Linked DNA regions of Homo sapiens: region 2 is linked to region 1. The links come from fine-mapping of genetic effects on gene expression. A gene starts in region 1. The other region holds a variant in brackets. All regions are shown on one strand. Distances are between the middles of the regions.

Region 1 (15,738 bases):
TAAATGTATTGTCTTGGCCTTTCATGAAAGAAGCAGGTGATTTAAACTGCCTTGCCAGTAACCGGAATAAATGTTTGCTTTCATAGGCAACAGAAGAAAACTTTATAAGTGCAAAGAAATGAAACAGCTAATAGAAGTAAAACTTTACAGGCACCAAAGCTCTAAAATCCCATGCCATGTTAAATGTTAAATGACTAATAGTACTAATAGTTCTATGCTGTTTGGAAGAAATACACCTTTACTATTCCTAAATCCTTCCTAAGAGTAGTAGATCATACTACTCCTTCCTAGGAGTAGTAGTTTTGGGCTAAAATTATCCCTGGGCTCTCAGTAATGCCAATTGATGTCATCACTTGGACAGTGTCAGGAAACTGAAGGAAATAGTTTCTGCTTTTGGTCTGTGTAAACTATTTTTCAAAAGCCTGGGGTATTCTGTTCTTTCCCAGAGAGGGAAAGGAAAGGAATTTCAGAACGAGGATGCTGATATACTTTAGAAAGCTGCTACAGGTTACAGGCGCCTCTCTCGCTTGATAGTAAGGTATACCTACATGTGTAAGTGGGAGAAAAGAGCTAGTCAAGGAGAAACATTGGCTTCTGGTGCCACATTGAAAATTGCAGGTCAAGTTAATGACTAAGTCCATTTGAGCTAGAGCTAACCAGCAAGGGTTTTTCCACGTTTTTCTTTTGGCTCAAACTTGGAGCAATTTTGACCCAAAAGACGGAGAAGAAGCGGGAGAATGCTCAAGGTGAGAAAGAAAGGTCCCTTTTTGTGAGGTTTGGGCTTCAGGTACCTTTGTTATGAACTTGAGCAGGAGTTATACTCTGACGTGTTGCCCTGCAGGATAAAACCACTGAAGGGAAGGTCACTGTGAAAAGGTAAGCCACAGACTGGGAGAAGGTATTCGCAACACATATCACCAAACACGAATAAATGGCCAGAATATATGAAGAATTCCTACAAATCAGTAAGAAAAAGACCAACTAATCTTTAAAGTGGGCAAAGATTCACTGGTTCCTTTGGAGGAGAAGAAAAAAAGGCATGTTTGGCCCAGGCCTGCTGGAAAATGCTGGCAAGCATGAGTGCAGAGGTCCAAGTGTCTGCACCAATGCCACAGAACTGGAGTAGTGCCATGCCCAAGACCTGGAGAGCACATGGGAGATGTAGCTCTGTGCAGGAATAAGTACTGGCTCTCAAAGCCAGGGCTGGCCTGGCCACTACACGGCAGAGAGGCAGGGCACTCTTCCTGAACCCCAACTCAGTATTTTCTTCAAGGCTACTACTACAGGAACACTATTAAGAAGATCTAAATGATGATAAACTAGGGAAGTACTAACATAGATGTGGCTTGGCCTTGTTCCTGACTCAGATAATCTGACTTCTGTCAATGTTATAGGAATTCTACCTGCTCAGTTTCTTAATAGTTAAGGTTAGATCAAACACGTTCCAGAGGTCAGAACTCAGCACTCTAAACCATTGACGCAGGGTTTGGAGATGTGATCTGTCGAACCACCTAACCTTCTGAATCATATTCCAAACCCAATCATACTCCACACCCAAAAGATTACGGGGAGAAATATAAAAGTTAATGCATGAAAAGTGTCTTCTTAAATCACCAACACTCATCTTCCCAAGACAAAACTTTATTTGAAGCATCAAGCAATATACTGAAAGAAGTGTCATGCTCAAGTAATGTTCTTATTTCCATAATTGTACATCTGATACTCTCTGCTCTCTTAAAAAAGACTGCATAGTGAGCAAAGATGAGTAGCACATATGCTTTTATACATAACCCTATCTATATGGTGCTTAAGAAAGTCTCCTTTTAATTTCATTCTTCCTTCCTTAAAAAGCATGTTGGTTTTATCTGGGAAAACTAAAACAAACTAGTTCTTCCACTTAGGATGCAGTTTCTCCCAAGTTATTTATGAAATAACACAGCTGCCTTTTTCTTTAAAGGGGTTCTTGTCTTCTGGAATTCCCTTTACTAGAGGATCCTCTCCAGAACGTTCTTCAATATAGTTCTTTATTTCTTCAGAACATTTAGACACCTTAAGTATAGAAAAAAAAGAGAATACATTAGGTTAGGGTTGTTTAAACTTTGTCCCTACGCCTTAATGAAATAAGTATAATTGAATACAATAAGTTTTTAAACATTTTTTTACATTTACATATATATGTGCATGTGTGTGTGTATATATTATATATATAATACATATATAAAATCTGGGCTCTGCACTCTAATATTTTTATTCTATTACTATACCTATGATGCAACCTATGTAAAATATATTTCTTACTGTTGGTCGTTGGTCAAATTAAAAAATGTTTGAAAGTCACTGCATTAAATAAATCATCTCCAGCAGTTTTTTTCCATTGTGTCTCATATGATTTCCTTCCTCTGCTAAAATACAATTATGCCATGTCTACAATATTTTAGGAACTGAAATATACTCTTATTTTAATTTTCCATGCTAGTGAGCAGGTGCAGTAGTAGATAATCCCCAAATGTTTTGGGGTGTGTAATGCCACGATTCTCACTTATGGGTGTGTGCCATGTTCTGAAATTTCACGAAATGATAGAAGCTTTGGAAAAAGCCTGATTCTGGAAAGATTGGAATTGTCCAAATATCGCACTCTGTGTTGCTCCTCAGAATTTCTTCCTGCTGCATGAGGGCAATGATCATAATAAAAGACTTATCTGAGACTTATTAGGCTTATCTGAGAATAAATTTTTTTCTGAGATGGAGAAAAAATTGAATAGTGTCTTCAAAAAGTCTATTCTTAAAAGAAGAGTTTCTTCAAAAAGTCTATCTATCCTTAAAAGACAGGTTGCAAGAATGAATTAAAAAAAGAATAAAAACAAAAGAAAAGAAATTAGGGTTTTAATGAAGGCCTGTATTGCTAGTAAGAAATTTAAAGTAAAAATTACAGAAGTACCAGCAAATTTAATTTAATTTAATTATTTATTTCTTTTTGAGATGGAGTCTTGCTCTATTGCCCAGGCTGGAGTGCAGTGGCAGGATCTCGGCTCACTGCAAGCTCCGCCTCCCGGATTCTAGCCATTCTCCTGCCTCAGCCTCCCAAGTAGCTGGGACTACAGGCGCCCACCACCACGCCTGGCTAATTTTTTGTATTTTTAGTAGAGACGGGGTTTCACCACGTTAGCCAGCATGGTCTTGATCTCCTGACCTCGTGATCCGCCCGCCTTGGCCTCCCAAAGTGCTGGGATTACAGGCGTGGGACACCGCGCCAGGCCGCACCAGCAAATTTAAATGGAGACCTATGAAAACTGGGCAAATGTTCCCATTGAATTAGTAATCTAAATTAGTAACCTCAAACTGTTTTAACGGTTACTACTAAAACATGTTTGCATGTGTATCCCAAAATGAATATAATTTTTAACTACAAATAAGTACAGACACTGCTTTGTTAATACATCATGCAAAATTATAAAACATAAACTGGAAATTATAAATGGGTGAGGTTTAAAACTAAACAGAAATAGCAATGTTAACATTTTACTTCCACACCCCAAATGATTATCCTCTGCAAATCAGTGTGGAAGCCTCTGACCTCAAATTGAAAACTAGGTGATGTAGTTGTGTGACTTAAAATCTGGCAAAATAAAATCTTTCAAATACAATTCTTTCAGGTAACATTTGCTCTCGTTTGTTGACATTCAGAGTGCATGCATTTTAAGTGAATTTTTAGAGTTGATAATGCACGTGTCATAATTTAGGGTCTGTCGTCCCAGGTTAATTTCTCAGCAAGATACATGCTCCCTACATTGAATCTTTTCTTACAAGGTTTTTTCATTAGGTTTCAGAAGAGGTCTGTAACCTCCAAATGTGAGTAATTGCTCCTCTGATACATTTCCTTCCATAATCAAGAGGACATGTTTGATAAACATTTAACTACAGCCAGAATGCAACTTGCAAGTTTTGTCTGGGCCTAAGTTAAGGACTGAACACGTAGCCCAGATGTTAACTATTTATTGACTGAATAATGGACTGGGAATGAGAAGAAGAATGTTTTAGTACCTGCCCTATCACTATCTATCTCTGTGGTCTTAAATGTGGAGCTAGTTAGCCTTTGTGGGACTCAAGTTTTTTTTAATCCTTAAAGTGAGGGAGATGAATGATCTCTAAACATTCCAATGCTTGCCTAGCAATAATAATGTATAATTCCAAGTGTATAATCAAATGTCTTAATATTATTGTTGAGATTTAGATGCCTCTTTCTGTATTTCCTAAGGTTACATATATCCAAAGTTTTTTCTCCCTCTGGCATACACTTGAGGTTTCTGGAGGTGGGAAGTTGATGCCACAGGCCGTGTCCTAAAGGGTCAGGCTGGCTAGCAGGGAGAAACTGCTAATGAATGATACAGTCAATTTTTACATAGTCGGTTGCATCCACATCACTTAACTTAAAACTCTGAGTAAGTAGAAGACGCTTGTCTTTTTTCCTAAGTTCTACACAGTGATACCAAATATTAAGATATTAGAACCTTGCATAGACAATGCTGTACTTCAGCATATGAAACTCTGTTTAATATGTAACTCCTAAGGTTTATTGTGTGAACATATCTAAGTGGCCAGCACTTGCTGTACTGGGAACTTCGCCATCCATAAAATGGGTCCCTTAAGGTTTCAAGAAGCGTGCTTATTGATTGGGTAGTGTAACTTCCTTTTTTTCCCCTTTAAACGCGTTGGTGTTTTTAAAGCTACAAACCCTTAACATGATAGAAGGGACAGCTCATTATAAAAGCTAGGAAGAGCCGGGATTTGGATGTGAAAGGTTAAATTTGAGAAAAGAAATATGTAAAAAGTAAAACACAAAAATGCCTGCATCTTCTAATCATCACTCAACAGTGAAGACTCTTGCCCTTAACAGATTTATTATAACTAGAACAGGAAGGCAAGTGAGCATATTATAACGCTTCATTTCCATTGTTTTTCTTAATTTTTTCTAGTGCTAAACCATAATAAATAAGATCAGTTCAAAATTTTCTTGCTGAAGAGGAAAGGTTAATTATCTTTAAACAATATCTATTCAAAGACCTTTCCTAGTCTACAGGATGCCTGATTGAGTTAAAACAGGAAGAGGGATTAGTGTCTGAAGGAAGGTCTTGATGACCAGTAAGAAATTGAAGTAAAACTTATAAAACTCCCGAGACGTTTCAGTGGAGAATATTGAATACTGGGTCATATGTTCTCAATGAAATGGTAATCTCTATCAATAGTCTCTAAAACTTTAAAATTGTGATCACTAAAAAAATTTTTCATATGCACCACAGTGTATGTATAATTATTTATAAATAAGTACAGATACTACTGTATTAATCGCATACTAATAAAACATAAAGTGAAAATTATAAAGGGATGAGATTTACAAATAAATATAGAAATTCTAATATTTTGTTCCCAAATTTCGGTGGACTGTTCTTTGCATATCACTGAAGGCCACTGGTGAAATTCAAAATTAAATAATGTACTTGTAAGACTTTAAAATACGGTTTTAGAAAATTTCTTTCAAATATCATCCTTTCTAGTAGTGTAAAAGATCAAAGAACCAAGTAGCTATCCGCTTTTTTCCTACAAGTGAGTTTTGAAAAACAGCTGTCTAATGGAAAGCAAGATTTCTTGTCTATTTTCCCCTTCCTAGGCATCTTAAAAGTTAGGACATTTGGCCTTAAATTACTTATCAGATCCTTGCTCCCTCCTCTACCTCCTAGGATTTCCCCACATCAGCTGGCAGTCCCCAGGCACTGCCAAAGGGTGGTGAGAAGAGAAGCTACAAAAAGGGGGAAAAATAAGCTAAACTATTTGCTTTACTGTTACTAAGCAGGAAAAATCGGACCCTGCTTCATTTCAGAGAAGGAAATATTCCGGAACAGCCAACTTACTTGTTGTCTCTGCAACTTCACTTCTTTGCGAAGCTGCTCAACTTCCATTTTCAGTTTTTCCTTCTCTGGCAAATCTTCGATGTGAAGGGCAGGCATTTTCGCCCCAGAACCGGGCTCGGGCTAGCTCTGGCAGCGGAGCCGCTGGAAGAGCGGCGAAGCTCGGCGCGTCCCGAAACAACTGAAGGCCTGGCCCGCCGCCCACCCGCGCAGGATGTGACTGCAGCCCTGCTGCGGTCCCCAGCTCCCCGAGGGCTTGGCTTTCTCCGGGACGCTTGTCACGCCAGCGTGCCCCAGCTTCCTAGGACCTGAGAACTCTGCCTTTTCTCAAGTCCCTGCAACCCAGGAGGCCTGCCCGGGTGCTAGATGAGGGTTAAGTTTGAGACTGGGTCCAAGCAGCTTCCCGCTGCTCAATCGCCCAGCAGGGATGCTGGCCACGGACAGGCCCTGACTCAGGACCTGCCACGCCCGCGGGGGACGGCTGGGCTGGGGCTGCAGGACTGGGAACAGCAGAAGTTTTACTTTGTGTTCTCCGCGCACCCCCGCTCCTTTTTTTTTTTCCGTTTCCAAGTCACATCCGGGTTTTGTTTGTGAAGCTAGGAAAAGGAGTACACTACCCAGCAGGAAATAACTACCCTTCACCTCTCAAAGAGTTTTAAAAATATGCTAGATATAGCTTTTCCCTAATTACATACATAGGTTGTTGCAAAAGTAATTACTTTTCTCTAATTACATATATAGGTTGGTGCAATTAGTTTTGCACCAACGTAATAAATGCATAGTGGAGAATGCGGACGCTTAAGAAAAGGCTGAAAAGAAAATGAAGCTTAGCCCTAATCCCAGAAATACCCACCAGTGTTCTGCTCATTTGTGTCCATCCGGCTTGTTCGAGGCCTAATATGGGTTTATACATTTTGGGCGAGGAGGGGGCAACAGGGTGTGAATATCGTTTACAAGTTGCAAGAACATTTTCTATTATTAAATAATCATCTGCATCCTCAACAGCAGCAGAGTTTGTATTTTTTTTATTTTTCCGGGGGAATGTTATGTAGAGGGGTGCATCAAAGGATGATATAAGAGAAGACAGAAGCAGGAATCTTAGAGTTCTTAACCGAAAGCCTTTCTCCACTCCCCAACCCTAAGTTTTGGGTGACACTTGACACCAAGGATTTTGAATTCCTGGCTCCTGAACCTTCCTGGATGTAGGCAGTGGATTCATTTAGTATTAGTTTCTCCACTTTCTGGCAAGCACTATTTATCTAGCTGTTGCTCTGGAAAGCCAGGAAAAGTGTCCGATGTGAAAAAAGTTTACATGCAATAAAACTTTCCCTTTAACTGTAACTAAAGTCTTGTTGATGGTGGTCAAAAGAGTAGAAGAAAAATCAAACATGAATGTAAGAAACCTTCCCTAGCAGTTGGATATTTCTCTTTCTTTCCAGAGATAACCTCCTGCCTCACAGAGTCAAAGGCAAGTGAAATATTAACTTAATATTTCAGAGTAGCTGACCCAAGACACCCATGACCATTCCCTGTTTAGGAAGCAGGAGTTTTTGTTCGTTCCTAGTTTCTTACCACGCTCCGCTCAACCTCAATGAATAAATTAGAATGAAAAAAACAATGAACCACTTAATGAATACTCCTGGCGTGTAGTTGCAGCTCTGCCACAGGCCATCACTGAAGAAGTCATTTAATTTTTCTTAGTTTTGGTTTTCTAATTTGTAAAATGTATAGTAAGGCAGGGAAGTAGTGAATCAGCTAAGCTATGTTGTGTCTCTAATTGTGTTGGTATGTCTATATATGATAAATCATTTTCACAAAGAAAATGTTTAAGAGCTTCACTTTCAATATTTGAAATACCAGGGTTTTCCAAGCTCAGAGTAGTTAGAGCATCTACTGAAGTTTACTTGTAAATAAGCAGGGAGACTAGACAAATGTCCATATCTGTCTTGTGCACTAATTCATTTTTAAAATTTTCTATTACTTAAATTTAAAAGGTTGGTCAAAAATACCTTAAATTAGTGAAAGTAATCAACGTGAATGTGGCCTAAATTAAATAGGTTCAGCACCTAAGTTAAATAAATTGGTTAAATAAATTATTGTGTTTTTGTTCTTTTTTTTGTTTTTTTGTTTTTTTGTTTTTTTTTTTTTGAGACGGAGTCTCGCTCTGTCGCCCAGGCTGGAGTGACTGGCACGATCTCCGCTCACTGCAAGCTCCGCCTCCCGGGTTCACGCCATTCTCCCGCCTGAGCCTCCGGAGGAGCTGGGACTACAGGCGCCCGCTACCACGCCTGACTAATTTTTTGTTAATGTGTGTTTGTTCTAAGTCATAAAAATATAATTATTTTGGCTTTGAAGTTTCTTTCCCATGAAATCATCTAGTTGCTTAGAGGGATAAATACTTATAAGCCCATATTGGTTCTTTAACTTTTCCCATCGTATTATGAGACGTATTAGAAACAAAATACTTGTTAGTCTTTTTTATTGTTATTAAATAATTCATATTCTAATATCTTAAGTAAATTGATTAAACTGAAGTGAATTGCAAAATGTTGAAATTGCATGATCACACAGGATTCTGAAAAAGGTTTTATTGTTGCTGGTTTCCTGTTTGTTTGTTTGTTTGTTTGAGACGGGGTCTTGCTCTGTCACCCAGGCTGGAGTGCAGTGGCGCGATCTCGGCTCTCTGCAAGCTACGCCTCCTGGGTTCACGTTATTCTCCTGCCTCAGCCTCCCAAGTAGCTGGGACTACAGGCGCCCACCACCACGCCCAGCTAATTTTTTTGTATTTTTAGTAGGGACGGGGTTTCGCTGTGTTAGCCAGGATGGTCTCGATCTGCTGACCTCGTGATCCGCCCGCCTCGGCCTCCCAAAGTGCTGGGATTACAGGCGTGAGCCACCGCGCCTGGCCCTGTTTGGTTTTAAATAGTAAAATGATGAGAATATTTTTTTTTAAACAAAAGGATGTGTAGTCTTCTATGCCTAGACACCGAATTTACCTCCCAGAGAAGAACCATGTTAAGCAATTTCTCATGTATACTTGCAGAAATAGTTTATCAGCAATATTCAAAAATTTTGAATAAATAAATTTTAAAATTTGTTTAGCTGTGTCCAAATGTTTTGTTAGGTTTTTACTTATATTTTACATAGTACCCCGGTAAAATTTATTTTACAAGTAGTATGAGTAGAAACCATTCTTTAGTAAAAATGACAGGTGCAACCAGCAATGAACTTTGATTAATTAGCCCACTGTCGTTTCACAAATGTTTTATAGAAATTAGTTAATAAAAATAAAAGTAACCATTTTCACTTTTAAATTATAAAAGAGTAACAACCATGAAATTTTTACTTTGGTATGCAAAAATAGGAAAAACAAGGTTTTGACAATTTTTGTGATTTGTTATGTTGTTAAAAATCTATATAAAGAAAAATAAAACATTGAAGGCAGTTAAACTGGAATTGAGCTAATACTAACTTGAACTCAAAAAAGATCAGGATTCTGGTCTTATTTTATCTTGTGATTTTTGCAAGAAACACATTATTTCTGCTTTTTTATTTCGTGTAAGTAAACTAGGTTACCTTTCAAAGTCTGCTCTTCTAAAATTTATAGAGTGACTTTGAGAGGCCGATACAGGAGGATCACTTGAGACCAAAGGTTCAGGAGTTTGAGACCAGCCTAGGCAACATACCGAGACCCCGGTCTCTACAAAAAAATAAATAAATATAAATAAATAAATAAATAAATTTAAAAAGTGCATAGTAACTGTTTTGACCATTGAAATTATGGTTTCTTTAAAGAAAGTACACTTCAGACGCTCTTGGTTCATTTGATATTTGTTTTAATCTGTTAAAACAATCATGAGGCAATTTTCAGGAGCTCATTTGTTTCCTGTAACTACCTACCTAAGATTCCTTTTCTTTTTTTTTTTTTTTTCTTGGGCAGGGGAAGGAGTTTAACTCTTGTTGCCCAGGCTGGAGTGCAATGGCGCGATCTCTGCTCACTGCAACCTCCGCCTTCCGGGTTCAAGTGATTCTGCTGCCTCAGCCTCCCGAGTAGCTGGGATTACAGGCGTGTGTCACCACAGCCAGCTAATTTTGTTTTTCTTTTTTTCTTTTCTTTTTTAGTAGAGACGGGGTTTCACCATGTTGGCCAGGCTGGTCTCAAACTCCTGATCTCAGGTAATCCTCCCACCTAGGACTCCCAAAGTGCTGGGATTACAGGCGTGAGCCACTGCACCCAGCCCTAAGATTCCTTTTCTAGATGAAGAGAATGCCAAGTCAAAGGATGATCTGTGTCTGATGCTCTGAGTATCTTAGCAACTACTTATAATTCAGGATATCAAAATGATTTCTCTGGCTGGGAGTGGTGGCTCTCACCTGTAATCCCAGCACTTTGGGAGGCTGAGGCAGGAGGCTCACATGAGGTCAAGAGTTCGAGACCAGCCTGGCCAGAATGATGAAATCCCTTCTCTACTGAAAAAAAAAAAAAAAAAAATAGCCAGGTGTGGTGGCATGAAATTGCTTGAACCCAGGAGGCAGAGATTGCAGTGAGCCAAGATCGTACCACTGCACTCCAGCCTGGGCGAGAGAGTAAGACTCCATCTCAAAAAAATAAAATAAAATAAAATACAAATAAAAATAAATGATTTCTCTTACCAATTTTGTTTCTATATTACTTTAACTCCCATCATATATAACTGATCATTCTCATTACTTAGTTTACTATTTTCCTCATGTAAACACATTATTGAGGCATTTAGGAAGTTTGATCCAATATAAACTTTTATAAGCACCACTCTTGCCTGCTTTTAAAGTCAATTACATTGTCCAGACAATTTGTTAGTTGATATGACACTTTTCAAAGATGAACAGTGCTTCTGACTTGGGAAATCTCCAATGTAGTACTGAAATTAAAACAACCGTAGAAATTATAATGAGAAAAAGTAAAGTAACGTTAAATGACTTAAGAGACACACAAAATACTCTTGAGGTAGAATGGGAGAGATAGTCTCATAAGAAGAGTAGGATTTCAAAAGGCTGAAATGGGGTGGAGTGGAGGGAGATCTCAGGTGGAGGGATCAGTATGACCAAATTCCAGGTGGTGGGAAAATGTCCACGGGAAGTATAATAATAGAGGACATTTGTTAGGCTTCTTTCTATGTACCCGTTTCTGATCTAAGAGATTATAAGTATTCAGATAATCTAGCCTAATCACTAATTTTATATATAAAAAAAAACAGATTCAAAAAGTTCACGTCATTTGTCCAAGTTCTCAATGACAAGGTGGAAGAGTCAGGGTTTTAATTTTGAATTGTTGGGCTGCAAACTTTGTCTCCAATGGTAAACTGAAAGTTAGAGATGTTGGTTAGGACCATCTTCTACAGGTTACTGAATGCCATAGCATGTACTTACTTTGTATTTATTTTAATCAGAGAAAGGGAGATATACTGAACACTTCACTAAATAAATACTAACTTGCAGGTGGAAAACTTCTAGAGACAAACCACAATTAAATAAACAAATAAATTGTAGTATGCCAGGTGGTGATGGTGCTACGGGGGAAAATAGACTGAGAGAGAGAGACAGGAAGCGCTTGGTGGAGGTTGGGAGGACTGTATGGAGAGGGTTTTGTAAATTTAAATAGGAGGATAAAAAGCTTTTCTTGAGGAAAAATAGATAAGACATTCAGTAACTAATCCCAGAATCCCTTAATACTCAGAGCACATTTGATGAAGACACGTGGTGGGGTGTGTTGCTGACTGTTCAGCCAGAAGCCCAGAGTCTTGACCGAAGAAATTTGTCAGGTGACTTCTCTGAAACTTTATTTTCTCCATTTCAAAATGAAGAGTTTAGACAAGAGTCAACAGATATTTGTTGAGCATTTATGATGATCAGAGTGGGAGGGCATTGTGCTAGAAGCCAAACTTTGGTACAACTTTCAGACTCCCTTCCAGACCAAATAATAGATAATTTTAATGTTTTTTTTTAAAGTGTGACAATCAATTAGTATTTCTGAGTATTCTGATCACTGAAGTATACAAAATAGCACTGTAAATGTGAGACAGCAACAAGAAAACACTGACCACAAAAGTGGTTACTGATTTAGGTAATTACAACTTGTCATTTGTTACAGAAGCAGAGGCAAGTTTTCTCTTAGTCATTAACACAATGGTAGTGAAATGTGACTCATGTAAACTCAACAGGATGCCAGAAGGACCTGATGTAGGTGATGGAGATTTCTCTCTCATGTGTGCTCACCTTGTTAAAGAAAAGACTGTGGTGTTGAGTCTTCATGATGATAGGGTAAAATAGCATGTTTCTTAAAGCACTTTAGAAATTTTGTCTAGATCCTTTCTCAGTAATAATACTAGTTAACACTTATTGTATCTTACCATGGACCAGGTAATATGCTGAGTGTTATAGTTGCATTAGTGTATTACTTAACCCCTACACAAAACAGAAGATATAACCATTATTGTCTTCATCCTATGCTAGGAGAAACAAATTTAGAAAGAATTAAGTAGCTTATCCAAAGTGAGTTGGGCAGTAAAGTGGCAGAGCCAGAACTGTCTGGCTCCTAAGTGCATGCTTATAACCGTGATTCTGCTGCTGGTTAAATTCACCGTGCTCCGTGACCACAGACTGAACCCTCAACCCAGTTGGCATTCTGGGGAAAAGTCACAAGATAGGTGAACTGCATATCAGAAAAATAAGCTTCCTAATTCCATAAGCAAGAGAAAGTTTGGGAAAGAAAACAGAAATTTAACCACAAAATTTCTGGGTAGAAAGTTATAAGTATTGAAAGGGAAGTGAAAAAACATAAAACAGTAAATATATGCTGACAACTCAGAATAATATAGAATCATTTATAAAACATAGTTCTTTTTAAAGAACTTTAAGCAATATTTTTTTGGCAATTATGTGTTAAACCCTGTGCCAGCTATGTTAAGAAAAACATAGAATGATGGGTTACCACACCCCAATTTTTATTAAAAGTTTACATCTATAAATTTAAAAATTCATGTACATGCATAGTAGTAGCATTATGTGTGAAAAAAATCCATATTGTTGTTAACGTTTGAGATATTTCCAAGAATTTGTTTAATTTTTTTTCTTTTTTTTTTGGTATTTTGAAATCACACAGCCTCCTTTGAGCTCTTTGAAGGGATTTTTGTCCTCTGGGATGCCCTTTACCAGTGGATCCTTGCCAGATCATTCTTCAACGTAATCTCTTCTTCACAACATTTGGATACCTTAAGGGGAAGGAAAAACGGATGACTCATTTGGTTTAAAACAGAATACTCCAGATGCCAAGAATTTATTTACTGCAATAAGTTTTCAGGTCGTATAATTTCAGTTTGATTCTCTCTGCTTTCCACCAATGCATACGTACTTTGTAGGAAAGAAGAAAGTTGCACCCTTCCCACTCCTTCTGGATATATCTCCAGACAAAGGAAAAACAGCTGGCCATGCTCCAGCTAAAGATTCCCCGTAGACACTGCCTCCAACATCAAAGGAGACAAGACCCAGGAATCAGAACACAACTGGCAACGGAAGTCAAGAATGTCATCAGATTTCATACTGATTAAATCTTTTTCCTCATTCCAAAAATGTGACTCGTAAAGGTGGAAGAGAATAATTATTAAATTCCAGGCTTATCATCATCCCTAAATTCTCAGAAGTATATACATGGCGTGATCTCCACTCACTGCAACCTCCATCCTCCACCTTCTGGGTTCAAGTGATTCTCCTGCCTCAGCCTCCTGAGTAGCTGGAATTAGAGGCACACGCCACCATGCCCAGCTAATTTTGTATATTTAAGTTTGTTTTTGTTTTGGTAGAGACAGGGTTCACCATGTTGGCCAGGCTGGTCTCGAACTGCTGATCTCAGGTGATCCTCCCATTTAGGCCTCCCAAAGTGCTGAGATTACAGGCATGAGCCACTGCACCTGACCCTAAGATTCCTTTTCTAGATGAAGAGAATGCCAAGTCAAAAGATGAACTGTGTCTGATGCTCTGAGTATCTTAGCAACTACTTATAATTCATGGTATCAGAATGATTTCTCCGGTGAGGAGTGGTGGCTCAGGCCTGTAATATCAGTACTTTGGGAGGTCGAGGCGGGAGGATCACTTGAGGTTAGGAGTTTGAGACCAGCCTGGCCAACATGGCAAAACCTCTTCTTTACTAAAAATACAAAAAGAGTTAGCCGGGCGTGGTGGGACTGAATTACTTGAACCAGGGAGGCAGAGGTTGCAAGTGAGTCAAGATCGTACCGCTGCACTCCAGCCTGCGTGAGAGAGTGAGACTCTTGTCTCAAAAGAATAAAATAAAATAAAAAATAAAAAAACAGATTTCCCTCACCATTTTTTTCTGTAAGACTTTAACTCCCATCATACATAATTGATCATTCTCATTACTCAGTTTACTATTTTCCTCATGTTAACTCATATTTTAGTAATTTAGGAAGATTGATATTAGCTTGGTTTTAAAATTTGGCTAAAATAAAACCAGTACAAATTAAAACAACAGTGAGGTGTTTTCTTTTCTTTTTTCTTTTTCTTACTAAAGCTTACACTCATCTATGTGTGCAAAATATGTTTAAAGTCCAAGTAGCTCAAATGATATATTGTAGTATCTATAATAACTCATTCTCATTAATGACACCAGAAAATTTTGTTAAAGAGTCACATGTTAAGGTTGTGTGGGAGTGGTTTTTGTTGCCTTGTAGTCTTACTTCATTTTCTTTAACCTAGTTATCCCAGTCCTGAAATAACAAATTCTGAACAAACCAAAGTCACTGACAGTTATAGCTCTGTAGCCTGTGGGACAGTCATGATTTCATTTCCTTCTTCCTGGACCATCTTTCTCTATACTTCCTTCCTGTGATTTCTCTCTTACTCAAAACCTGCTGACAATCTGTGTTTTAAGCAACAGGAATTGTCCCCTACTGGTGATTTAATCATGAATTAAGTCAATAAGAATTCTGAATTATCCAATATAAACATTTTATAAGCACTATTCTTGCCTGCTTTTAAAGTCAATTTCATTGTCCAGACAATTTGTTAGTTGATATGACAGTTTCAAAGATGAACAGATCTTCTGGCTTGGGAAATTTCCAATACAGCACTGAAATTAAGACAACCATAGAAATTATAATAAGAGAAAGTAAAGTAATGTTAAATGACTTAAGAGATACACAAAATACTCTTGAGGTAGATTGGGAGAGAAAGTCTCATAGAAGAGTAGGATTTCAAAAGGCTGAAAATGGGGTGGGGTGGAGTGGAGGGAGATTTCAGGTGGAGGGATCAGTATGACCAAATTCCAGATGGTGGGAAAATGTCCACGGGAAGTATAATAATAGAGGACATTTATTAGGCTTCCTTTTATATACCCATTTGTGATCTAAGGGATTACAAGTATTCAGATAATCTATCCTAATCACTAGTTTTATACAAAAAAAAAAAAAAATGTTCAAAGAGTTGAAGTCATTTGGTCATTTGTCCAAAGTTCTCAATGACAAGGTGGAAGAGTCGGGGTTTTAACTTCACATTGCTGGGCTTCAGAATCTGTCTCCAATGGTAAACTAAATGTCATAGCAAATATTTACTTTGTATTTATTTTAATCGGAGGAAAGGGGCCATACTGAACACTTCACTAAATAAATACTAATTTGCAGGTGGAAAACTTCTAGAGGCAAACCACAATTAAATAAACAAATAAATTGTAGTATGCCAGATGGTGACGGTGCTACGGAGGAAAATAGAGTGCGAGAGAGAGACAGGAATTGCTTGGTGGAGGTTGGGAGGACTGTATGGAGAGGGTTTTGTAAACTTAAAT
Region 2 (15,738 bases), 22 kb before region 1:
TCAATACAATTGTAATAAAAAAATTCAAAGGAAGTAAATCAATGTGCTCATATTCTTTACAGATTCATAGCTCAAAATGGAAAAATTCACATTTTAGCAGATGGCTAATTATTAGTGTAACAGGAACAGCATTCATGTCATGAACAACAAACTCAGTAAGCCATTATCTTAATAGTGATGTTCAGTGTAGTTCTATCCTGTTACATTCAATTGTTTTCTTCTTAAAGAAGGAAATTGAAAAAGAATTGGAAAAGCAGACATTTGCTATCATTCAGGGTTAGCTGCAGGCACAGCCACAGAGCATATTGACGTAAATAATGGACACTTACTGTCCAGACAAGGGGGTGACTCACTCCCAGACTGGCTCTCTGGATTGAATTGTAATTACTAGAAACTTTCACAATTTTCTGCCTCATGTTGTGAATAAAAAGAGAGCACAAATTTATGTTTAATGGTCAAATAAAACATTTGTTGGTTTGAGTAACCTAATCTAATCTTTTGATCAATCTTTTGATCACTAAATGACTAAAATACCATATACTCATTCTTAAAAGTTGCAAGAAAAGGAAATATAATCAGTAAGATATGTGTTGACAACAATCTGTAAACAAAAGACTAAGCTAAAGTATATTGTTCTTACTTTCATCCTTTCTGTTCTTCTTCCCTTCTCTTATTCATTCATTCAACAAATATTTATTGATTACCTATCATGAGTAAGTTTAAGTGTGTAGACACTTGTACTACACATCCAGCCCACATAAGTGAGCTAGCATACCATATTGAAATAGGGCAGTATATGGTGGATAACATCTCAATAATAAGCAGTTCAAACAACCGTGATTGGGGAAGCTAGATAAAAAACAGCTTCCAGATGGGAGTAATCAGGTAAGGCATCAGAGACCCTTCTTGAATCTCATCAGGACTGCCAATCCAATTACACCCCTCCCTTTCTCCCTCTCTCCCTTTTTCCCTCCCTCCCTCCCTCCTTATCTCCCTCCCTCCGTCCCTCCCTCCCTTCCTCCCTCCCTCCCTCCCTCCCTCCCTTCCTTCCTTCCTTCCTTCCTTCCTTCCTTCCTTCTTCCTTTTTCTCTCTTTCTTTCTTTTTTTGTTAAACCTACTGGCCTTTTCTTCCTTCATTTTCCTCTTCACAATATATATTCCACCATTCCAATAACAATCTTGAGGACAGGTGTGGTGGCTCATGCTTGTAATCCCAGAACTTTGGGAGGCAAGAGGACTGCTTGAGCCCAGGAGTTCAAGATCAGCCTAGGCAACACAGTGAGACCCCTATCTTTGCAAAAACTCAAAAAAATTAGCTGGGCATGGTGGTGGACAACTGTAGTCCCAGATGTTTGAGAAGCTGAGGCAGAAGGATTGCTTGAGCTTGGTAGGTCAATGCTGCAGTGTGCCATGATCTTGTCACTGTACTCCAACCTGAGCAACAGAGTAAGACTCTATCCCTGAACAGAAACAAAAACAAAAACAAAAAATCCCCAAAAAACATTCTTGGCCACATTCTAAATGTACTTATGTCCCATATTTTGATCACACTGGTCTTAACAAACCAGTCCTTAATAAACCCACATATTGAGTCTTTCTTCATTTACATTCTTTTCTGGCATTCCAATAATTTTTTTTTCAAATTACTTTGCAATGACATTACTCTGCAATGACTGTTTCAAACCGTTTACATTCTCCTGAAACTCCCATCCCTACTACTTCCCACTTCTTCCTTGGTGTCAGAGGTTGATGTCACTTACTATCTCAAAGGGAAAATAGATGCCATCAATTGGACATTTCTTCAATCTCTAAATCACATGCTCTAAGCCACCAAACACACATGTCTTTTCTCCTCACCCATGTCTACTCTTTGTCTTTTTGCAAGACAGGAGGTGGCCTGCTCCTTGCTCACACTAAATCTCCTGACTTTTGAGCTTATCCTCTCCCCCTATCTTAGGAACTTTACTCAAATGTTTTTTCTCTTTGCATTATCTTCTAACTTTCCCATTAAACCTGAATATTTTTAATGGCTTTTAAGCTACCTCCAGCCACTCCCAAGAAAGAAGATTCGTTCCTCATTCTCTTTCAGCCACAACAAGCTCTCCAGAAATATTATACATTTTTGCTGTCTCCACTTCTTCATCTCTTGATCACTAGCCAACACTAATCTGGCTTGACCCTTTACCACTCCACCAAAAGAGCTCTCATCAATGTTCCCAGTGGCCCATGTCACTAAATTCTATTCCCCACCACCCACTTGTTTTTGTTTTTGATTTTCATCTCTTTTGATTTCTTAGGAACATTGGAAAATATCAAATACTACATTCCTCTTGAAAAACTTTCTTCTTTTGACTTGTATCATATCACATTTTCCTGGCTTTTCTCCTGTATTTGACCACAACTTGCTGGTGTCTTTTGCATGTTTCTTCTTCCTACTCCCAAGATAACTATTAGCCTGCCTTCAGGCCATGTCAAGTCTCTCTTCTGCTCACTTTTACAACTCACCTTAAGCAATCCCATGGTATTAGCTAGCATCCATGTCTTTGTTGGACATAAATCTTATGCCCCTTCAGAGATGTCCCTCGACTGCCTCCTTCTTTTTCTTTCTTGGTCAGTGCCCCACCTGGATGGACCTGGTCACACCTCTACCTCAAGGCTAATGCTGAAGTTGTTTGAGTTGGCTGTTAAAGATTGAGTAGAATTTTAAAAGATGGAATATAGAAGTAGAAGAATTAATTCCAGAAATCTAAAGTGGCAAAACAAAAGTGCACACTCATAAAAAAAAAATCAAGGCAAATTTTGGAATCAGCAAGTAGTGTGCTTGACATGAGCACAAGCTTTAAAGGTAGGTTAAGCCTGGCTTATGGAGAATTTGGCTGTCAGAATAAGGAGCCCAGTTCTCATTCAGTAGATAATAGCAATCCCATGATGGTTTTCGACAAGAGACATATGGTTTTAAAACAGTGGTTTAAGATGGCAAACCTAAAGATCTTTTGCAAGGTGGCTTTCAGAAAAAAGACTATAGAGACAGGAATATGAAGCTGCAATGTAACTATTTTAAGCTTTCTGTTTTGGGGTGATAAAAGCTTTAATCGAGAAGACAATGGAACCGGGAGGAAGAATGGGGCCCAGAAAACACACTGAAGGACAGCAACTAAATTTGGCATGCCTGATATGCAACAGATGAAAACACAGGTTAAAAAGTCTCCTTAAGGTTAAAAGTAATTGGAAAAAGAAAGTCACTGTTTATGTTCAGAAGGGGAGTTGAAAATGTGAAACTCACCTCTAAGAGTGAAGCCTGGAGTACTCACATTAATTTGAAAGCTGTAAAGAGATGATAGCTGAAAATTTCAAAGTTGAGTTTTCCAAAGAGAAGGACGTAGAGAAGGGGAAGAGAAGAAAGTCAAGAATAAGGCCTTAGGAATTATATAAAATGTTAACAAAGGAAACACAAAAAGAACAAGCAAAGAAGAAATTCATTTTGTGCAGGGCTAGATAAGCCAGAGAAACGGAGCAGGTCAAGAATGCTACTGAGAGGCTAAAAGGAAAAGAAAGCATTTGGCAAATTCCAAGAGTTTAAAAATCCTTGCAAGGAATTAAGAAGAGATTGATGAAACAGCCTGGTGTTTTAACAGACATTGTGGTTAAAGGGGGAAAAATGTTATAATGTGCTAGTTTAAGTAGGGAGTAGAATTGGTGAAAAGTCTGTGGCTTTGCATGCTTGGTTAAAGCCAAGGAAAAACTGACAGCATATTTTTAGTGAGGAGGGGCAATTATTGGAGAGAAGAGACATAATAAGGTAAAGAAGTGACTAAGTGATGAACATTTAGGAAAACGGAAGAAACTAAAGGAATTAAAGGAACTGGGAAAGATAAGTTATTTTAAAAAGGAAGGACACCTTGTCTTGGATATAGGAAGTTATATCGTGGTTGAAAATAGATTAGCTGTGAAGACCTGAGAGCGATGTGCTCAGAAGTCTATTCAAACTGGATGAGATAAACTTTGCAGACACTACTGGAAAAGAAAGATAAGGGAGGAATCAGATCACATGCAGTTATATGTCTCCTAAAATAGCCATGTATTAGGCAGAGAGGAGGGGCTGCCAAAATAGTTTTTCAGCATTTCTTTTGGAAAGCGATTAATGATAAGTTTTGCCCAAATGATTGTATTTGCTATATTTTGGAAAGTCTAAACCTGGGAAAGCAAATAGGTTTAACATGTCATGTCAACTCCAATTGATTAGTAAACCTGCAGTGCTATTGGAAAAGATTATGAGGGCTGTTCTAGCTCGGTAAGAGAGCACTCAGTGACTGATTAGCAATATCTACTTTGAGCCAAGCATAAAGGGTTGATATATTTGCTAACTCTGGAACCATAACTGTAAGTTATTTAGTCCAATTTTCTGACATACAGATCAGAAGCAAGGCCACATTTAGGTATCCATCACAGATTTATATGAAAGTGGAAAAGTCATAAAAAGCCACCCTACTTTAAGGTTCCTTAGCTGAAAGATATAGACCTTGGAACTTGGGATTTGAAACCTACAGGGTTCAAAAAGAAAAAAATCAGACCCCACTCACTTATCCGATCTATTCTTATTCCTTCCAAGTTCATTTGGGACTGGCTTTAGAGTCAAGGTATTGCTCTGTTGCCCAGGCTGGAGTGCAGTGTGTAATCATAGCTCACAACAGCTTCGAACTCCTGGGCTCAAAGTGATCCACCTCCTTCAGCCTCCCAAGTAGCTGGGACTGCAAGCACACATGCCACTATGCCAGGCTAGGTAAATATATTTGAACATTACAGTCAAAGAATTATAAATCAAAGTTCGCTCTACTATCTCAGATCAATTTTCTGATATTCTTTTCAGCAAGAACAAACACTCTGTTCTGGATTTATAATATAAACATTGATATATTTCTAGAGTATAACTTTATAATCAAAAAGAGTTAACTTTTTGATTAACATTATAAAATTAATGTCTATATTTAATAGTCACATTCTTGTTTTTATACTTGTTGTTATAAAATTCCTCTGCTATTATGTAGTGCATTGTTCATGTGAAACTGTTTTTAAAGGAAGCACAGTTCTGTCTTGATAAATATCAGGAAACTGCCAGATGTTTCCTACTGTCTAAGCCAAACCAGTCAACAGTATGATCATGCTTTAACTAACACGGTCACAAAATGCATACCACCCACAGTCTCTCTATAATACAGAGTCCAGTGCTTTAGCACACAGCAAAATGTACAATTTAAATAGAAAACAAAAGAAAGAAGTGAGGAATGTCATTCTAGTGCAGTTTTAACTTTCTCACTGAAAAATAAAATATACATTAACCATTTTAAATTTCTTAATCCAAAAAGGAATAAACTTGCTTTCTAATATCATGGGACATTTCCTTAAATGGAATAGAATTTACAGTTTTTCCCTTAAAAATGGAGACTTCTTTGAAAGATGAGAAAAAACAAAATGAACTTGTTCAAGAATAATATATCAAGAAAGGCTAGTTACTAAGCAAGTTTCTATTTAACCCACAAGTCGTTGTCATGCCCTTGAACAGTCTGCGTTCTAGCCTCAGTCACCTTGACAGGTGGCGAGAAGGGGAGAGACAAGTAGACTTTCAGACAGAATAAATAGTATCACAGTGACTGGGAGACAGAGAAGCTTAAGATTTACTTAGCTATCAACCAGCTGTTTCTGGATAGGTATATACAGATGAACAAAAGTAGAAAATACTGGCATAGGAGATCCAAAATGTGTGTTGTGGAACCATGAAGCCAAATAGTTTGTACTTAAATTAGAAGGCAAAATAAGGCAATTGAGGGTTTCTGTAAGGGGAAATGTATTTTGGATTGGTGGTGAGTTTCTGCATGCAGAAGGATAAAGAAAGAAGTGTGTAAGACAGGGATCATGGTATGTCTGTGTATAAGAGCCTGAAAAGTGTTGCTATCAAATAAGTTGGAAAAGCTCCAAATGGCAGAGGCAAGCAGAGGAGCATGGTAGGCGAGGTTTTGATGTCAAAGGAGGAAAAGGCTTTGAGTAGAAACCAGATTCCAGTTATATAGAAGGTCACAAGTGAATGAGACTTTCAATACACTGGACTTGGCAGTTGGAAAGTCATAGAGAGAAAGTTGGTAGTGAGAATAAGATTGTAATATTTCAAAAGAAATAGAATTTAATTTTTCTCTTCTGAAAAAATGGAGACTCGTTTAAAAGATGAGAAAGAAATGCATGTATTTAAGAATAATATTATTGTTAAGTATGATTAATTAGTAAGGAATGGAGGCAGGCAAATTATATAATCAATGAAATACCTGATGATAAAAAGATCTGAAATTGAATAAAACCATAGAGAGTATTGCTCTCACAGGAAGCAGGAACAAAGAAAAATTTCTTCTTTTGCTTTGTTGTTACAATTGTTGTTATTATTGATTTAGGTAGATTGTACAAATCATGTTTTTAGGCAGAAAAAAGAAACATAACCAATTGAGGGCAAGAGGTAGAAAATCTAAGACAAGAAGGTATAACTTAGGTCCCAGGAGATCCACAGACACCGGAGTTCAAAAACACAGGCTTAGTAAAAGAAACAAAACCAAAAACAAGAACAGAAAACAACGAGACACTTGTTTCTCCATCGAAAAAGAGAAGGACCAGGAAAGAAAGATGAACAATTAACACATTCTCATGTAGGTAGGAGAAAAATTAGGGGAATGTACATCTGATATTTTCAAACTTTTCCACTGAGTAGACGTGTAGGACATTTGCCAGCAAGATGGCAGGCTGAAATAGTGCTGGACTCTTGAAGAAAAGAGAGAAGGTTTGTAAATGATACAGTAAAGAATTCAAGTGAGAAATAAAAGAACCCCAGTGTGCAGCAAAGGTTAGTCAGGTTTTCTTCTCATCTAACCAACACCTCAAGTGCAGATGAAACTCAACGCCATGATAAGACAAGGATGGTCACCTTCTTGGCAAGAGGCTATGGAATTTTATGTCAATCGTTATAACTTTCTTACCACACTATCTTATATGTAACTGAGTGACTTGTACTCGAAGTGGCCACCTCTTTTCTTCCTGAGGAAACAAAAGTAAATTACCTATAGGCCTACTTTAGTCCGGAAAGGCTCACTCCTGCACTCTCTTTCAGAGTGCCTGCCAGTAGGATCCACTGATATGACCTAAGGAAGCCTGCTCACATCACATGTTGCTGCCCAAAGCTGATCATAGAGGAGGAAGTAAACCAATTTTCATAAGAAGTTCAGAGCCTTATGGGAGGGAATGAACTCCTGCTCCCTAATATTTGATGCTAAAATATCTGTTGGATTGGACCAATGTAACACAAAGTTGGCAGGCAAGAAAAGATGCCAAAGGTCTCAAAGAGAAATGCACTCATAGGGCAGAATCGATTATGTGCTGGAGAACCCATTATGTGCTGGCAACTTGTGATCCATTGTTGGGTGGCTGGCACAGCAGTTATCTCAGGCTTGTGCTTTGGTGCATAGTTAGTGAACATATGTGTGACTCAAACAAGGGAGCCATCAAATTTGGGCCTAAGCTTGAAATAAATGGGATTCAGTTCAACAAGCACATTACTGAAAAATGAAGAAACTTTGACTGGACTGTTCAGAAGCAACAGAAAATGTAAACTGATCAGGTGTTCCATTTCTCTACCCTCCTGGTATTTGATAGCTCAACCGGTCCCATTTTCAACTTGTAAATATTTGGAGTGACCATTAAAACGTAAGCAAAAGACACAAACAGTCACTTCTCAAAAGAAGACATACTAGTGGTCAAAAAACATACAAAAATATGTTCAACATTACTAATCACCAGAGAAATGCAAGT[T/C]AAAACCACAATGAGATATTAACACCATCTCACACCAGTCATAATGGCTGCTGCTAAAAAGTCAAAAAACAACAGATGCTGAGCAGGCTGTGGAGAAAAAGGAAAGCTTATACACTGTTGGAGGGAATGTAAATTAGCTCAGCCACTGTGGAAAATAGCTTGGAAATTGCTCAAAGAACTTAAAACAGAACTACCATTTCACCCAGTCTTATTACTGGGTATATATATATTTTAAAAATTGTCCTACCAAAAATACACATACACTCACATGTTCATCATAGTACTATTTACAATAGCAAATATATGGAATCAACCGAGGTGCCCATCAACAGTGGACTGGATAAAGAAATTGTGGTACCTGTACAGCATGGAATACTATGCAGCCATAAAAAAGAACAAATTCATGTCGTTTGCAGCAACATGAATGCAGCTGGAGGCCAGTATCCTAAGCTAATCAATGTAAGAACAGAAAACCAAACCTTATAAGTGGGATCTAAACAATGGGTACTCATGGACATAAAGATAGTAATAATAATAGATGTTGGTGACTATTGGAGGGGAGAGGGAGGGAGGGAGAGGGCAAGGGCTGAAAAACTACTATTGGGTACCATGCTCAGTACCTGGATGATGGGATCATTCATTCCCCAAACCTCAGCATCATGTGATATACTCAGATAACAGACCTGCAACTGTACCCCCGAACCTAAAATAAAAGCTGAAATTGTTTTGAAAAATGGGGTGATAAGGTTCAAGTGGGAAATATATACTTGCTACTAATAATACAGAAAACAATAATTTAATAAGAAAATAAGAAAATATCATCATACTGTTACTGGGAACCACTAAAGACTCCTGTGCGATTACCTAGTCAATTTTCTTTCCCATTAGACTATGAGCACCAAGATAGCAGACATGGACTTATTCATCCTGGTCTCTTTAGTACTGAAAGGCAGCTGGTCTACATTCAATATGTTTTGACCAACAGAGTGAAGAAGGGAAAGAAGGTGGAGGAGGCATGGAGAGAAGAGGAGGGAGGACACAGCAGCCTCCATGGAGGAGCTGGTTCAAATGGAACCCTAATCTCTTAGCTGTGAGCTGATTAGGAGGAAGGGAAGCTGAAGATGATAGATTTAGCAAAGGCTGCTGGGCCAGCAAGAGCATGCAGCAAGAGCATGCCATGGGTGAAATACAGTTACCCCAAAGAAAGTCTGGGAACAAAGGCCAATAATCAGAAATGAGTTGGTGTCAGGGATTTGCTGTTGAGGGAGAGAGGTCATCCAAGGGGAAGCTCTGCAAGCAAGCCAAGATGAAGGCTGAGGGCGATGGCAGTTTCCAAACAAAAACAGGTAAAGACAGAAAAGGAAGAGAGGAGTTGGAGGTGAAGTTTGAAAGCAAAAGGAAAATGAACTCACTAAGATGGTGAGGCAGAGACTTATTTACAGATGAATATATCAGCTTTGGATTTCTAAGTACTTTGCTCTACCCCTACTTCTTAAGAAAATAGACATGCAGGCTTGACAGAAATTTTTTTTTAAAAAAAGAAAAAAGAGGTGGATGCTTTACAACTACAACCAAAGAGAGAAAAATTGCATATGAGTTTATATTAGGAAAAGAGCTGTCTTTTAAAAAATACCTTAAAAACAGTTTTGGTGAAACAGAGGAAATGAAAGTTGAGTCACTGAAAGAAGAGAAGCAAAACAATAGTTAAATTGACTGATTTCCATTAGAAATTAACTAAAATTTGGAGGTGAACTAGAATGGAAAATAAAGGGAAGAAAGAAAGAAATGTTGGAGAAGGACTGGACAGCACAACTTGAAGAACTGAAAGACCTCCATGTACAGAGATGTCTGGTGCTCAATTTGACCTTGTTTTCTCTTATCTCGTAAACTCCCTTTCACCCAAGTCATGAACAATATTTTCTACAGACAGAAATGCCTTGGGAGCAAAGTTTTGGGGAAATGAAGGAAAGACTCAGAAAAGAACAGCAGCAAGAGGTGAGAGGTGAGTGGGCTACAGGGAGGAACTGGGGGTGGAATTCAGAACTAGAGGTGACCTTGAGAAAGTAAGCCCCGGGAATCATAAAGAACCGGACACTGAAGTGATGTGGTATGAGGTGAAAATGGCTGATCACCTGGGGCAGGCTGGTCGAGGCAAAGAAAATCAGAAGGTGGGGGAAAATCAGGAGAAACAGAGAGACTAGAGTAGGATGTGGACACATACCAGGATTTATGTAAGGGAAAGGGAGAGATGGAGGCCTGGAAAACTCACATGTTTGAGATATTGAAGGTGGGAGGATTTTAAGATAAGCCAGTGCTGGCAGAGATGAAGAGGAAGGAAAGGTAAGGGAAACTCAGCAGCAACTCCAACACTGAAGGGCAAAGACAGTACTGATATTTGATATTTCAGTTAACGATTTATCGCAGAGCAAAAGGTGGTTGTCTTCATATTCTACATTCTGCCCAAGGTGCTGCTTCCCCTGAAAGAGGGTCAGGGTACAGACCTGAGGTGCCTTGGACCTCTGGCTCAGATGATTGATAAAAATAAGTCCTGGTTTAAATAAATCATTTAAGAGCACCAGGGGTCAAGCCCCTGACAATTTATCAGACTTTGAATAAGAAGAAATGAGAGTGAAGCGCATCATTAATCAGCCTACAGAGACGGTATGGGGGTTAGACAAGGCGACGACCTCTCACCCTTCATTACTTGCTTGTACTCAGGAATCCCCCTGCCACACGGTCCCCTATTCTCCGGATTCCCTCCCCCAACAATTCTAAAGAAAATCCTATCATGAACCTCAGGAAGTGTGGGCCAAACTAGCTTTGGGGAACTACAAATGAGTAAATCATAAGAAAAGTTGCTTGGCTCGCTATTAACCAGGGAAATCAGATTTTAAATAGAAATACTTTTAGATATTTAACAGGGAAGAAATGAAGTCAGAACACTTTCAAAGTGATAGTGGAAGTGCACATAAACTAAACGTAAACAGTGCAAGAAATTTTCACAAAGTGAATACAACTCTGTCACGAGGGCTGCCATTCAATACCAAAATATGACCAGCAACCCAGAAGCCCCTTTCATGTTCTCTTTCATACTACACTCCAAAGAGCAGACTCGAGCTTTACTTCTAACACCACAGGTTAGTGTTGCATTAAAAAGTGTAGTCATTTTCTTCAAAATTTTAATACTCTCTAGCTGCAAAATAGAGATCATTAATATCCAAAATTGGTAGATATTACCAACTATACTAAAATACTTTAAAGTAGCACAGTATAATAGAACAGCAGAAAGTATAATATTAGTATTGTAATCACTCAAGTTAGGGAGATTGATACATTCTAAGGTTTAGTGTTAGAAGAGTCATACTCTTAGAACTTGAAGTTGACAGGAGACAAGGAGGAAGAGTGGAGTTGAGGTCTCTGAGCCATACGTTGATGTCACTAAGGAAAAAGTCAGTTGAGCAGGTGACTGCAACCAAAGAGAGAGGAAGGCATAGAGTTCAAGTGTCAATAAGTAAAGGCAACAAGTTGTGATCAGAATATGGCAGTGGGGAGCCCTTCTATCCATTAACATTTTTTTTGGTGGCAGAAGGAGCAGCTTCTTTGAGTGATTGTGATGACAGGGAAAGCTAATGGGAGGAAATGATTGAGAAGATGAGTCAGTTTGATGACTGTGGAGTGGAAGCTAGACAAGGCACAGTGGAGGGTATTCCTAATCTTCTGCAAGTCTCCAACACAGTGAAACAGCAACAAGGTCTAAACTAAAGTCCCAAAGTTATCCCTTTCATATGGGAAAAGGATATAAGCACTTTCCCTGCTAAGGTAAGAGATCCTAACCATGTTTGTCTTGTTGACACTTCTGAGATGAAAAAAGTAGATTGTCACAAGGAGGAGCACAGGAGAGAGCAGCACATACACACAACATTTAAAATTCTATTTTAGAAGGTTATCTGACTCCTGAAACTCATTCATGTAGATCCATGTATATTACAGGTTAAGAACTCTTGGTTCAGGGAAAATGTGTATTTGAGAAAATAGCAAGCCAACTGAGAATATTTATTTAAACAGAGTAAAAACAGGGTGTGGTGAGAAGAGCGCTGTATTTGGAGTTAGAAGTCCTGGTTAGATGCATGCCCATGGCAAGTCCCTTAACCCTGGGGCTTAGTTTGCTCATTTCCAGGATGAAAATAAGTCATGGGGTATAATATGTACTTCTTCCTACTTCTCAGGTTCAAATGAAATAATGTGACTGTGCATAGAAAACATCCAAAAGACCATACAAATAGAAGTCACTATCAGTGTTATGCTTACCTATTACTTGGTTTATGCATTCCCAAGTATCCAGCTTTTACTAGAATATTAAACAAAAGAGGAGCAGGAAAGCATTGTTTTTCTTCCCACTGGTGACCAAATGGGTGAATGTCCTTATCTGTATTCTGTAATCAAGATTGAAAAAATAAGAAAACTGTTTCATCAAAAGGGAGTTTTCCTGTAAAAACTTTTTCCTGAACTGTAAATTATGTAGTCAGAACAGTTCTTTGACTTCAGGTTTAAGTCCATTATAAATAATACTAATAGAAATTATACTCTGCCTATTTTTCCATTTCTTTCTAATTCCAGACATCATCTAGGTATCCTTATTCTAATATGTAAAGGAAAGAAAAGAGAAAATGTTGGGTTGCATTGTATTGTAAATAGCAGTAAAACACTCAGAGACAGCATTATAGCAAATATCTGTTTAAGCAAAGCCCAACCAAATACCTCATTCAGCGGAAATTTTGTTTTAACTTAGCTTTTAGGAAATATAGGAGGTTGAAATTAGCCTAATCAGTTTTTGGCAATAATAATCATGATGATGATGGATATAAAGGATAAGAATGAGAAGAAGTGAGAGAAAGGAGGAGAGAGAATAGAGAAGAAAGAAGAGAAAGAAGAAGAGGAGGATAATGGAGGCAAAGATGGAGAGGAAGAAAACCAAGGTGTCAACAGCAATGTGGAAGACCAAGAAGGTATGTGGGACTTTAACCCTTTACCCTATATCTTATTCATTGTTTCAACCTCTCTTCATTAAGTGTTAATTATGTTGTGTACTGAGGGGAATACAAAAGATATATATTATATATGTGATCCAATTATTTGTTTTTTGTTTGTTTTTTTGTTGTTGTTGTTTCTTTTTTTTTTTTTTTTTTTTTTTTGAGACCGAGTCTCGCTCTGTCACCCAGGCTGGAGTGCAGTGGCGCGATCTTGGCTCACTGCAGGCTCCACCCCCTGGGGTTCACGCCATTCTCCTGCCTCAGCCTCCCGAGTAGCTGGGACTACAGGCGCCCGCCACCTCGCCCGGCTAATTTTTTGTATTTTTAGTAGAGACTGGGTTTCACCGTGTTAGCCAGGATGGTCTCAATCTCCTGACCTCGTGATCCGCCCGTCTCGTCCTCCCAAAGTGCTGGGATTACAGGCGTGAGCCACCGTGCCCGGCCAATTATTTGTTATTTACACATATATCAGGTAACCTGGTGGTTTCAAATGAAAGAAATTCAGCTTCTTTAAAGAAGGAAATGTACAACACCCAAAAGAAACAATATCAAGCAGTGAAAAAAGTAACTCAAGTTGAATCAGATTCCCTGGGTTTGAATCCGTATTCCATCATTGAAAACCTGTATGACCCAGGGAAAATTACCTAAGCTCTTCAAGCCTCAGTTTTGTCACTAATCCTAGTACATATTTTATAAGGTCTTTGTGAGGATAAAATGAGATAATGTGTACAAAGCCTTCAACACAAAGTCAGATACACTCCACAAATGTTGACAAGCAGCATTAAGATGCACAGGAGAAGAAAGAAGCCTCTAAATATGGAAACTACAAACCTAATATTCTCATTGTGGGTTTGCTGCTAATTTGCTCCACAACCTTTATGAAAGCATCTGACTTATGGTTTCCTCACCTATCTTAGAAGGTAAACAGAACACAGTCCATGAGACTGACTTCACTTTTGATACCCATTCAGGTTCAGCATTCCCCAAGACCATCCTTAGAGTCACTAATTCACTAGGACTCACATAACTCACTGAAGGCTTTTATAATCACAGTGGTAGTTCGTTAAAGCCAAACAATACAGATCAAAATCAGCCAAGGGAAGAGATGCATGGAGTGGAGTCCAGGAAAGTTCTGAACATGGAGGTTCCAGTTATCCTCTTTCAGTGGAGTCACGGAAAGCACTACACTTTTGAAAACACTGTGTGACAATGTACATGAACTATGGCCAACCAAGGAAGCTCACCTGAGCCTTGGTATCCAGAGTCTTTACTGGGGCTCCCTGGTCAACTGGTCTCAGCCTCCAGTCTCTCAGATGAAGCTGATACTACATGGCCCTAGAAATCAAACTGGAACTGCATGATAGACTTTCTGCATGGCCCAAAGCCCCAGGTAAACAAAGGCATTCTTGTCACGCAGAACTTTCAAAGGGCTTAGAGGTTACTCCCCAGTGGCCAAGGGCAAAGGCCGGATCTCTCTTTGGGCAAGGTTAATTCATTACTACACACTATCCAAAGCTGGACTCAGTTTCATTGCTCTTGACCAGCAGCCTTCAAACTTCCATGACTGGAGCCTACAAAAAAAAATTGAATATTGACTCAAACACATACATATATTTCATATGATATGTCCTTTTATTCGATGGAATATATGCTGATATTTTACTTCATTTGATTTTATCTTACTCAAAATATTTGTTACATTTCACAAAACTGACCACTAATAATGGGTTCTAATATGTAGTTTGAAAAACACTGATCTAGCGAAGGAGTCAGCAGACTATGGCTGTGGGCCAAATTCAGCCTGCTGCTTGTTTTTATAAAAAATGGTTTTTTTGGAACACAACCACACCCATTGGTTTATGTATTTCATTGCCTGTGGCTGCTTTTATATTAAAGTAGTTGTCACAGAGATGGTAGTCCTGCAAAGGCTAAAATGTTTGCTATCTGGCTCTTTACAGAAAAAGTTTGGCAGCCCCTGAGCTAGTAACACCATTATGATTTATAACTTCAGCAAAATGCATTTATAATATTACCTTACCTCCCTTCCAGTAGATGACAAATGCATAACCTTTTATCTATTTTTTAGTTTATACAAATGCATGATAATGTTATAAATTTTAGATTCCAGACACTCAACTAAATTCTTCAAAGAGAGGTATGTTTTGGAAAATGTCTTTCTAAAAGGGTGAAAAGAATCCCATATTTCCAGGGTCAGCTACCAAGTCAATGGATGCACCAAGGCTATGTAATGCTTTAAGCTCATGATTTGTGTCCTCAAACTTGTGACTATGTTACTTATTAATCAAAAAGTATTAGCAAACTCCTTTTTTAGATAAACTGTACCTTTCACTATAGCAAAATATGAGGAATTATGTGAAAAACTCTCAGCACAGTAAAAGGAAGCAGAAGCCTGAGAAATATTGATCAGGATTACAGAGAAAGAGTTCAGTCTTATTAAGAGAAATGTATTGTTTCAAGGGGAGTAGGATCTTCCAATAAAGGCATGCATCCAAAAAAATATCAATAGGAGTCTCTCTAAAGTCCACGTTCAGACAGAACTGAAACAGAAGCAAATTTGGGGAATGAAGCGTAGATTAAATAGCAAACCCCAATTCTCTGGGCATCTTTCTCATCTCTGCTACCTGAGACCGAATATTAGGAAAAGACTAGAAAGCAAAGAAGACTGTTCCAAAGGTTGAGTTAGGGGTGGGTGGAAGGCAGAGGGGCACAATATATCAGTTTTTGAAATACTAGCAAAATTTGCCTATTGTAGTATTTACCCTCACCAAAGTGACTGACTAGTATTGGGAACAAATGAAAACTTGGTACTCCACTGAGTCTGGCTCTATTAAATATGAATCTTTCA

Evidence for each region. PIP is the estimated chance that this variant, and not a neighbour inherited with it, causes the effect.
Region 2: its variant is fine-mapped to the expression of GNG11 in whole blood (TOPMed, PIP above 0.99).

The regions. Positions count from the first base shown.
Region 1 is chr7:93,912,402-93,928,139 of GRCh38, reverse strand. GNG11 (G protein subunit gamma 11) reads right to left here and starts at 6,405. Exons shown (of 2, transcript NM_004126.4): 1 at 5,907-6,405; 2 at 1-2,049. The coding sequence starts at 6,002. The coding sequence ends at 1,924. LOC105375402 (a long non-coding RNA gene) reads left to right here. Exons shown (of 3, transcript XR_927751.3): 2 at 11,620-11,704; 3 at 13,045-14,198. RefSeq lists enhancers at 6,168-6,803, 12,602-13,801.
Region 2 is chr7:93,934,246-93,949,983 of GRCh38, reverse strand. LOC105375402 (a long non-coding RNA gene) reads left to right here and starts at 12,470. Exons shown (of 3, transcript XR_927751.3): 1 at 12,470-12,848. The variant T/C (reference allele first, on the strand shown) is at 7,843.